Homo sapiens: one gene and its partner. The protein of the gene in region 1 purifies or fractionates together with the protein of each later gene. This does not show direct contact. Each region holds a gene or a part of one and is shown in the gene's direction. Other genes may lie near its edges.

The links. The genes of interacting proteins can lie anywhere in the genome.
Region 2: the proteins of NUSAP1 (region 1) and UBE4B fractionate together in Homo sapiens (co-fractionation; one large-scale study listed by BioGRID). This does not show direct contact.

Annotation. Positions count from the first base shown.
Region 1 is NC_000015.10:41,339,381-41,342,880, forward strand, and holds part of NUSAP1 (nucleolar and spindle-associated protein 1), read left to right. Parts: intron 1-3,005; coding exon 3,006-3,074; intron 3,075-3,500. UniProt on the Homo sapiens protein: Microtubule-associated protein with the capacity to bundle and stabilize microtubules. May associate with chromosomes and promote the organization of mitotic spindle microtubules around them.
Region 2 is NC_000001.11:10,130,458-10,133,957, forward strand, and holds part of UBE4B (ubiquitin conjugation factor E4 B), read left to right. Parts: intron 1-42; coding exon 43-159; intron 160-257; coding exon 258-356; intron 357-1,911; coding exon 1,912-2,025; intron 2,026-3,500. UniProt on the Homo sapiens protein: Ubiquitin-protein ligase that probably functions as an E3 ligase in conjunction with specific E1 and E2 ligases. May also function as an E4 ligase mediating the assembly of polyubiquitin chains on substrates ubiquitinated by another E3 ubiquitin ligase.

The DNA of each region.
Region 1 (3,500 bases):
ATGAGTGTTTATTACATTACTTCGACTTTTCTTTTTTTTTTTTTTTTGAGACGGAGTTTCGCTGTTGTTGCCCAGGCTAGAATGCAACGGCATGATCTCAGCTCACTGCAACCTCCACCTCCTGGATTCAAGCAATTCTCTTGCCTCAGCCTCCCAAGTAGCTGGGATTACAGGCATGTGCCACCATGCCCAGCTAATTTTGTATTTTTAGTAGAGACAGGGTTTCTCCATATTGTTCAGGCTGGTCTGGAACTCCTGAACTCAGGTGATCTGACTGCCTCAGGCCTCCCAAAGTGCTGGGATTACAGGCGTGAGCCACCACACCCAGCCTACTTTGACTTTTCTATAGGCCTGACTTTTTTTCTAATAACAATTTAGGGGAAGAAATTAATTTTTTTTCTATTTTTTTATTTTTTTTGAGACAGACTTTCGCTCTTGTCACCCAGGCTGGAGTGCAGTGGTGCGATTCCGGCTCACTGCAACCTCCACCTCCCAGGTTCAAGTGATTCTCCCGCCTCAGCCTCCTGAGTAGCTCAGACTACAGGTGCCCACCACCACGCCCAGCTATTTTTTGCAGACATGGGGTTTCACCCTGTTGGCCAGGCTGGTCTTGAACTCCTAACTTTGGGTGATCTTCCTGCCTCGGCCTCCCAAAGTGCTAGGATTACAGGCATTAGTCACTGTACCTGGCTGAAATTCATAATTTTTGCTGTGGCCTTTACCTCTCTACTTGACCCAGCCTCTGGTCACATCTCTGATCTCCCTGCCCTCCATATACCTCAGTGTTCACCATACTTCTACCATAAGGGCAGTTTCTGTCTTTCAACTCATGAGTCCACCTCAGGGCTCCTGTTCTTGGCGCTCGCTCTGCTCGGAGTGCTCTTCACCTGCTGCCTCTTTCCTCATTCACATCTCGGGAGGCCTTTCCCAGCCATCCTAATTCAGGTAGCATCCCCACCCCACCCCAGTTGCCCAGTTTTATTTTTGCATCATAATACCTGACGTCATATCATTCATTTCTAGCTTTCTTGGGTAACTGTTTCACCTCTGCTAGAAGATCCTGGAGGGCAATCACCTTGTCTGTTTAATTAATCACTCTCTAGTGTCTGGAACAGTGCCCAGCACAATAAATGCTTGTTGAAGGAATGCATGAATATATGCTGATAACTAACATCTGCACCTTCAGCACAACTCTTGAACACCACCTCATATCATTCAACCTCCTCACTGGGTTCTGCCACAGGTGCCTCACTTCATGCATTTTTGTATGTTTGGTGAGATTTTGAAGGTATATTAAGAGAGTATTAGAAAAATCAAGAATGCCTGAATTCTGCCCTGCCAATCATCCCCTTCCCAGAGAAAACCTCAAGGGTGGTTCAAGGAACAAGTAGAAAATAAGGTACCACTTTATTACTAGCTGAAATAGTGCCTGATATCTTGATGCAGAGCATTCTGGTAAAGTGGATTGGAGACTGTGGCTTAGGCTTGCACCACAAGCAAAAGCTTGAGCACAAACCAAATTTCAGGATCTCTGCTATTCTCTACTGGACACATGGCCCATGATAAAAGGCATGAGAAGAATAGAGCCAAGCCTGGTGGCTGGGCCCACCTTGAGAAGGATGGCTGTGGCCCTCAACTGCATGGCTGGGTGGAAGAGGAAGAAAAAAAGAACCCAACCAAAAAACTTGACTTTTGTTTTTTAAACGGAGTCTTGCTCTATCGCCCAGACTAGAGTGCAGTGGCATCATCTCCTCGGCTCACTGCAACCTTCGCCTCCTGGGTTCAAGCAATTCTTCTGCCTCAGCCTCCCAAGTAGCTGGGACTACAGGCACACACCACCATGCCCGGCTAATTTTTGTTTTTTTATTAGAGACGGGGTTTCACCATGTTGGCCAGGCTGGTCTAAAACCCCTGACCTCGTGATCCACCTGCCTCGGCCTCCCAAAGTGCTGGAATTACAGGCATGAGCCACCCCGCTCAACCAAACTTGACTTTTAAAGCACAGGAAAATGTAACCAATCAAATTAACATTGTTCTTTCAGGAAAGAACAAGAAGGGAGGTTTTCCTAGGCTGGGAAGAGAAGCTCAGTGTTCCCTTCCCCCGGCAGAGACCTACAACCATCCCCCTAAGACCCCGTCACCTTTTGCATTCCTCATCTTAGGGACCGTACCACACTTCACCAGCTGTCCAAGCCAGAAACGTTGGCATAACAAAGTTTCCCTCTTCCTCAACTCTCATGTTCACACTGATTTCACTTCCTAAGAAGGTTTTGACTTCATCCATACTGCCTTAGCCCCGCTCCAGTTCAGGCCACAGCATTTCTGGCTCATCCCCATCAAATGCATCTTGCACATTGTGCAGGTAGACTACTCATTCTGAGTAATGCAAAATTGGTCACCCACTGCCTTGCTGCAAACTCTTCAGAGACTGCCCTTTTCTCTGAGAGTAAAGTTCATACTCTTTAAAGGCTTACAAGGCCTGGTAACATCACGGCCCTGCTCACTTTCCCAACATTGTCTCTTACTATCTCCTACAAACAGGTCCATGTTCCAGCCACACTGAACTTAAGTTCTTCAAACTCCACCCTCATTGTTGCCTTGCTGTGCCATTCCTCTACCTCTTTCTCTACCTTCTCTTCATCCTTCAGATCTCAGCAATTAGAGACATCACATCTTTATCTGAGAACTGCCCTGTGCAGATACTTGCTGAAGTCTAACCTAGCAGTCCCAACTTTGATGGCCATGCCTACCTATGTTCTCATGACAGCCTGAGCCTCCTAGCGTGGGCATTTACCCCACTGTATTGCAATTGCCTCTTTCCTTGTCTAACTTTCCCACTCAGATGTGAAATTCCTTAGAGCAGAGACCCATTCTTTCTAAGTAATGGTTCTAGTCCTATGGTCTGACCAGAGTACATTTAATGAATACAAGAACAGCAAAAAATATTCAACGTATCTTCCTTGTTTATTTGACTTTTGGCTCTAATAATAAGGTCTCTCTTGCAGGCAACCAAGTTGTTAAAAGCCTTGAAAGGCTACATTAAACATGAGGCAAGAAAAGGAAATGAGAATCAGGTGAGTAATGTTTTTCATGTTTACCTGTTAGCTAGCAAAATAATCATATTTGGTTAATGGGCAATTAACACACAACTAGTGATGATTTAAGACATGCTGTTGGCCAGGTGTTGTGGCTCACGCCTATACTCCTAGCACTTTGGTAGGCAGTGGCAGGCGGATCACTTGAGTCCAGGAGTTCGAGACCAGCCTGGCCAACATGGTGAAACCCCGTCTCTACTAAAAATACAAAAATTAGCCAGATGTGGTGGCGGGAGCCTGTAATCCCAGCTACTCAGGAGGCTGAGACAGGGAGAATTGCTTGAACCCGGGAGGTGGAGGTTGCAGTGAGCCAGGATCGCGCCACTGTACTCCAGCCTGGGTGACAGAGCAAGACTCCGTTCAAAAAACAAAAAAAAAGATATGCTGTTTATTAAAAAAGAGATC
Region 2 (3,500 bases), on another chromosome or scaffold:
GCCTGTTCAGCGGCTTGACTGGCTCTTCCATCTTCTGCCTAGGTTGCTTCTTTGCGGTTGTGGTTGCCGAAATCCTTAAGTCCTGGCTGTGGGCGGGAGCTGCAGAGACTCTCTTACTTAGGGGCTTTCTTTAGCTTCTCAGTCTTTGCAGAAGATGATGTAAGTATAGTGGCTACTTGTACTTTGCTGCCCTTTTATTCAGATTCTTTCCCAAATGTGCATTATATGTTGACTGCATTTTTTCCTTCTCTTTCCAGGTTAAAGTGGTTGAAAAATACTTCTCAGGGCCTGCCATTACCCTGGAAAACACTCGTGTGGTTAGCCAATCATTGCAGCATTACTTAGAGCTCGGAAGGGTAAGTGTTCAGAAAACAAATCCAGAGGAAGTATCAAAGATGAGCTCCAGATACAGAGCTTTTATTTTGTAGACTGGACTATGCCCAGTAGACAAACGGCTAACAAAAGCCAATTCGATCTTACATAAAAAAGATAAACTATAAGTAAGTAGCCTGTGTCTTGAATAACAGGTTGTAACAACAGCAGTATGCTGCCTTTGTATGTAGCATCACTGGGAACTGGTCCTAAGCTTAGTGGCCCGGCTCCTCCTCCAGCTGGCCCTTAGGCATTTACACTGTGAGGGTGAGCAAGGATTGTTAGTTTGCACACACCCTCACTGACTTGCTTATCCCAAATGCAGATTAATATGTCTTCAATTCTCAAACTTAAAGGCAGAGAAGGGCCGGGTGTGATGGCTCATGCCTGTAATCCCAACACTTTGGGAGGCCGAGTGGGGTGGATCACCTGAGGTCAGGAGTTTGAGAACAGCCTGGCCAACATGACGAAACCCCGTCTCTACTAAAAATACAAAAATTAGCCAGGCATGGCAGCGCGTGCCTGTAATCCCAGCTACCTAGCTACTCGGGAGGCTGAGGCACAAGGATCACTTGAACCCAGGAGGTGGAGGTTGCAGTGAGCCAAGATCACGCCACTGCACATCAGCCTGGGCGACAGAGCAAGACTCCATCTCAAAAAAAAGAAACAGGCAAAGAAGTTACAGGCTTGGGTAACTAAGGTAATTTTGATCATGGGAAAGAAGTAACAAAGCCTATTTTATTAAAACTGTAACTGCCGGCTGGGCGTGTTGGCTAATGCCTGTAATCCCAACACTTTGGGAGGCTGAGATGGGCTGATCACGAGGTCAGGAAGTCATCCTGGCCAACATGGTGAAACCTCGTCACTGCTAAAAATACAAAAATTGGCCAAGGCAGGTGGATCACGAGGTCAGCAGTTTGAGACCAGCCTGACCAACATGGTGAAACCCCATCTCTACTAAAATACAAAAAAAATTAGCTGGGCATGGTGGCGGGTGCCTGTAATCCCAGCGACTTGGGAGGCTGAGGCAGGAGAATCGCTTGAAACCGGGAGGCGGAGGTTGCACTGAGCCGAGATGTGCCACTGCACTTTAGCCTGGGCAATAAGAGCAAAACTCCGTCTCAAAAAAAAAAACAACAAAAATGCAAAAACTAGCTGGGTGTGGCGGCGTGTGCCTGTAATCCCAACTACTCGGGAGGCTGAGGCAGGAGAATGGCTTGAACCTGGGAGGCGCAGGTTGCAGTGAGCTGAGATTGCACCACTGCACTCCAGCCTGGCAACAGAGCTAGACTCTGTCTCAAAAAAAAACAAAAAACTGTAACTGCCTACCTCCCCCACTCCATATTCTGCTTTCATGCTCATTACTTTGACATAGTTGGATGTGGATATTTCTTATATTCTTTCACTCAGGCTCTTCTAAAATGAGTAGAAGTGGGAGAGGAGAGAACGTGGGAAGTAGGCTAGCTGTTCGTGAAGTCAAAAAGGAATCATGTGCAAAATAGTTTTAATTTGTTTCTTCTTTTTAAAAATAAATTTCAGCAAGAGCTTTTTAAGATTCTGCATAGTATTTTGTTAAATGGCGAAACCCGTGAGGCTGCTCTCAGTTACATGGCGGCTGTCGTCAATGCCAATATGAAGAAAGCACAGATGCAGGTAGGATTCCTACAGACTGCTTTTCGCTGTTTGTCAAATTCATTCATCTGACCCAGATTTAGTCAGCACCTACCAGGCACTGTTCTAGGAGTGGGGGTACAGTATTGAACAAGGTAGACGAGCTTCCTGCTTTTGTGGAGCCCATGTTCCACAGAATAAACAAGTAGACATATAAATACATGATTTTAGACAGTTGTATAATCAGTGAAGAAAATAGAGCAAAGTAAATGACATGAGAAGAACTGTAGGTACCAGAAGGAAGATCTGAAGGTGATTTTTGATTGGGTGGCAGGAAAGGCCTCCCTGAGGAGGTGACATTTGTTTCATAGGAAGGAGCCAGCCATTGTAGTGGCTGAGAAAAGAGCTATCCAATGTGGAAACGAAGCAGCTTTGGTACAAGCCCAGCACGCAGGCTTTTGTGGCTGGAGAAGAGTGAACAGGAGGGAATGTCGGGTCCTGGAGTTAGTGGATAGGCAGGGCGCCATCGGGTTAGGTTTACGTGATCAGAACTGTCATGGGAGGGTTTTCAGCAGGGAAACCACAAAAGCTGCTATGTAGACGGACCAAAACAGAAGGGGGCAGCCAGGAACAGACCCAAGGGGGCAGCCAGGAACAGACCCAAGAAGGCAGCTGCAAGGGCGTGAGTGCTTCGGTCCGGGTGAGACAGGCCAGTGGCTGCAGCTGCTTTGCCAGAGGAGAAAAGGGCATCCTTCCTTGACTAGTAATAAATAATGAATGAATGATGTGATGTGTATACTCAGAAGCAAAAATCATGTAGAGAGAAGAGCACAGATCTTGTGATTTCTGATCGTGGTTCCACCGTTTACTAACTGCGGGACCTTAGACAGTGACTCCTCTGTGCCTCCATTTCCTCATCTGCTAAGCTGCGGTACTACTGGTACTGGGTTTATTATATATAAAGCTGTTAGAGTGGTGCCTGGTACACAGTGATCACTCAACCAATATTAACTATCATTCTTATCATTGTTGTATTATTATTTTTTTCTTAACAGAGGTAATCAAGTTACATTGTTATATTGCTAATGCAGGAGCATGCTGATGCTGTCACCTAGAGAAACAATGTCACATGATAAGAAGTGGAGCAACTTGTTTTGATGCTCTTGAGGGAAATAAAGAGGAGAAAGAGGCCGGGCATGGTGGCTCACGCCTGTAATCTCAGCACTTTGGGAGGCCGAGGTGGGAGGATCACTTGAGCCCAGGCATTTGAGACCAGCCCTGGCGACATAATGAGACCCCATCTCTACAAAATATACAAAAGTCATCTGGGCATGGTGGCTGGTGCATGCCTATAGTTTCAGCTACTTGGGAGGCTGAGGCAAGAGGATCACTTGAGCCAGGGAGGTCGAGACCAGCCTGGGCAACATAGGGAGACCCTGTCTCTACAAAAAAAATAAAAAATTAGCCAGTATAGTGGCATAGACCTGTAGACCCAGTTATTCAGGAGGCTGAAGTGG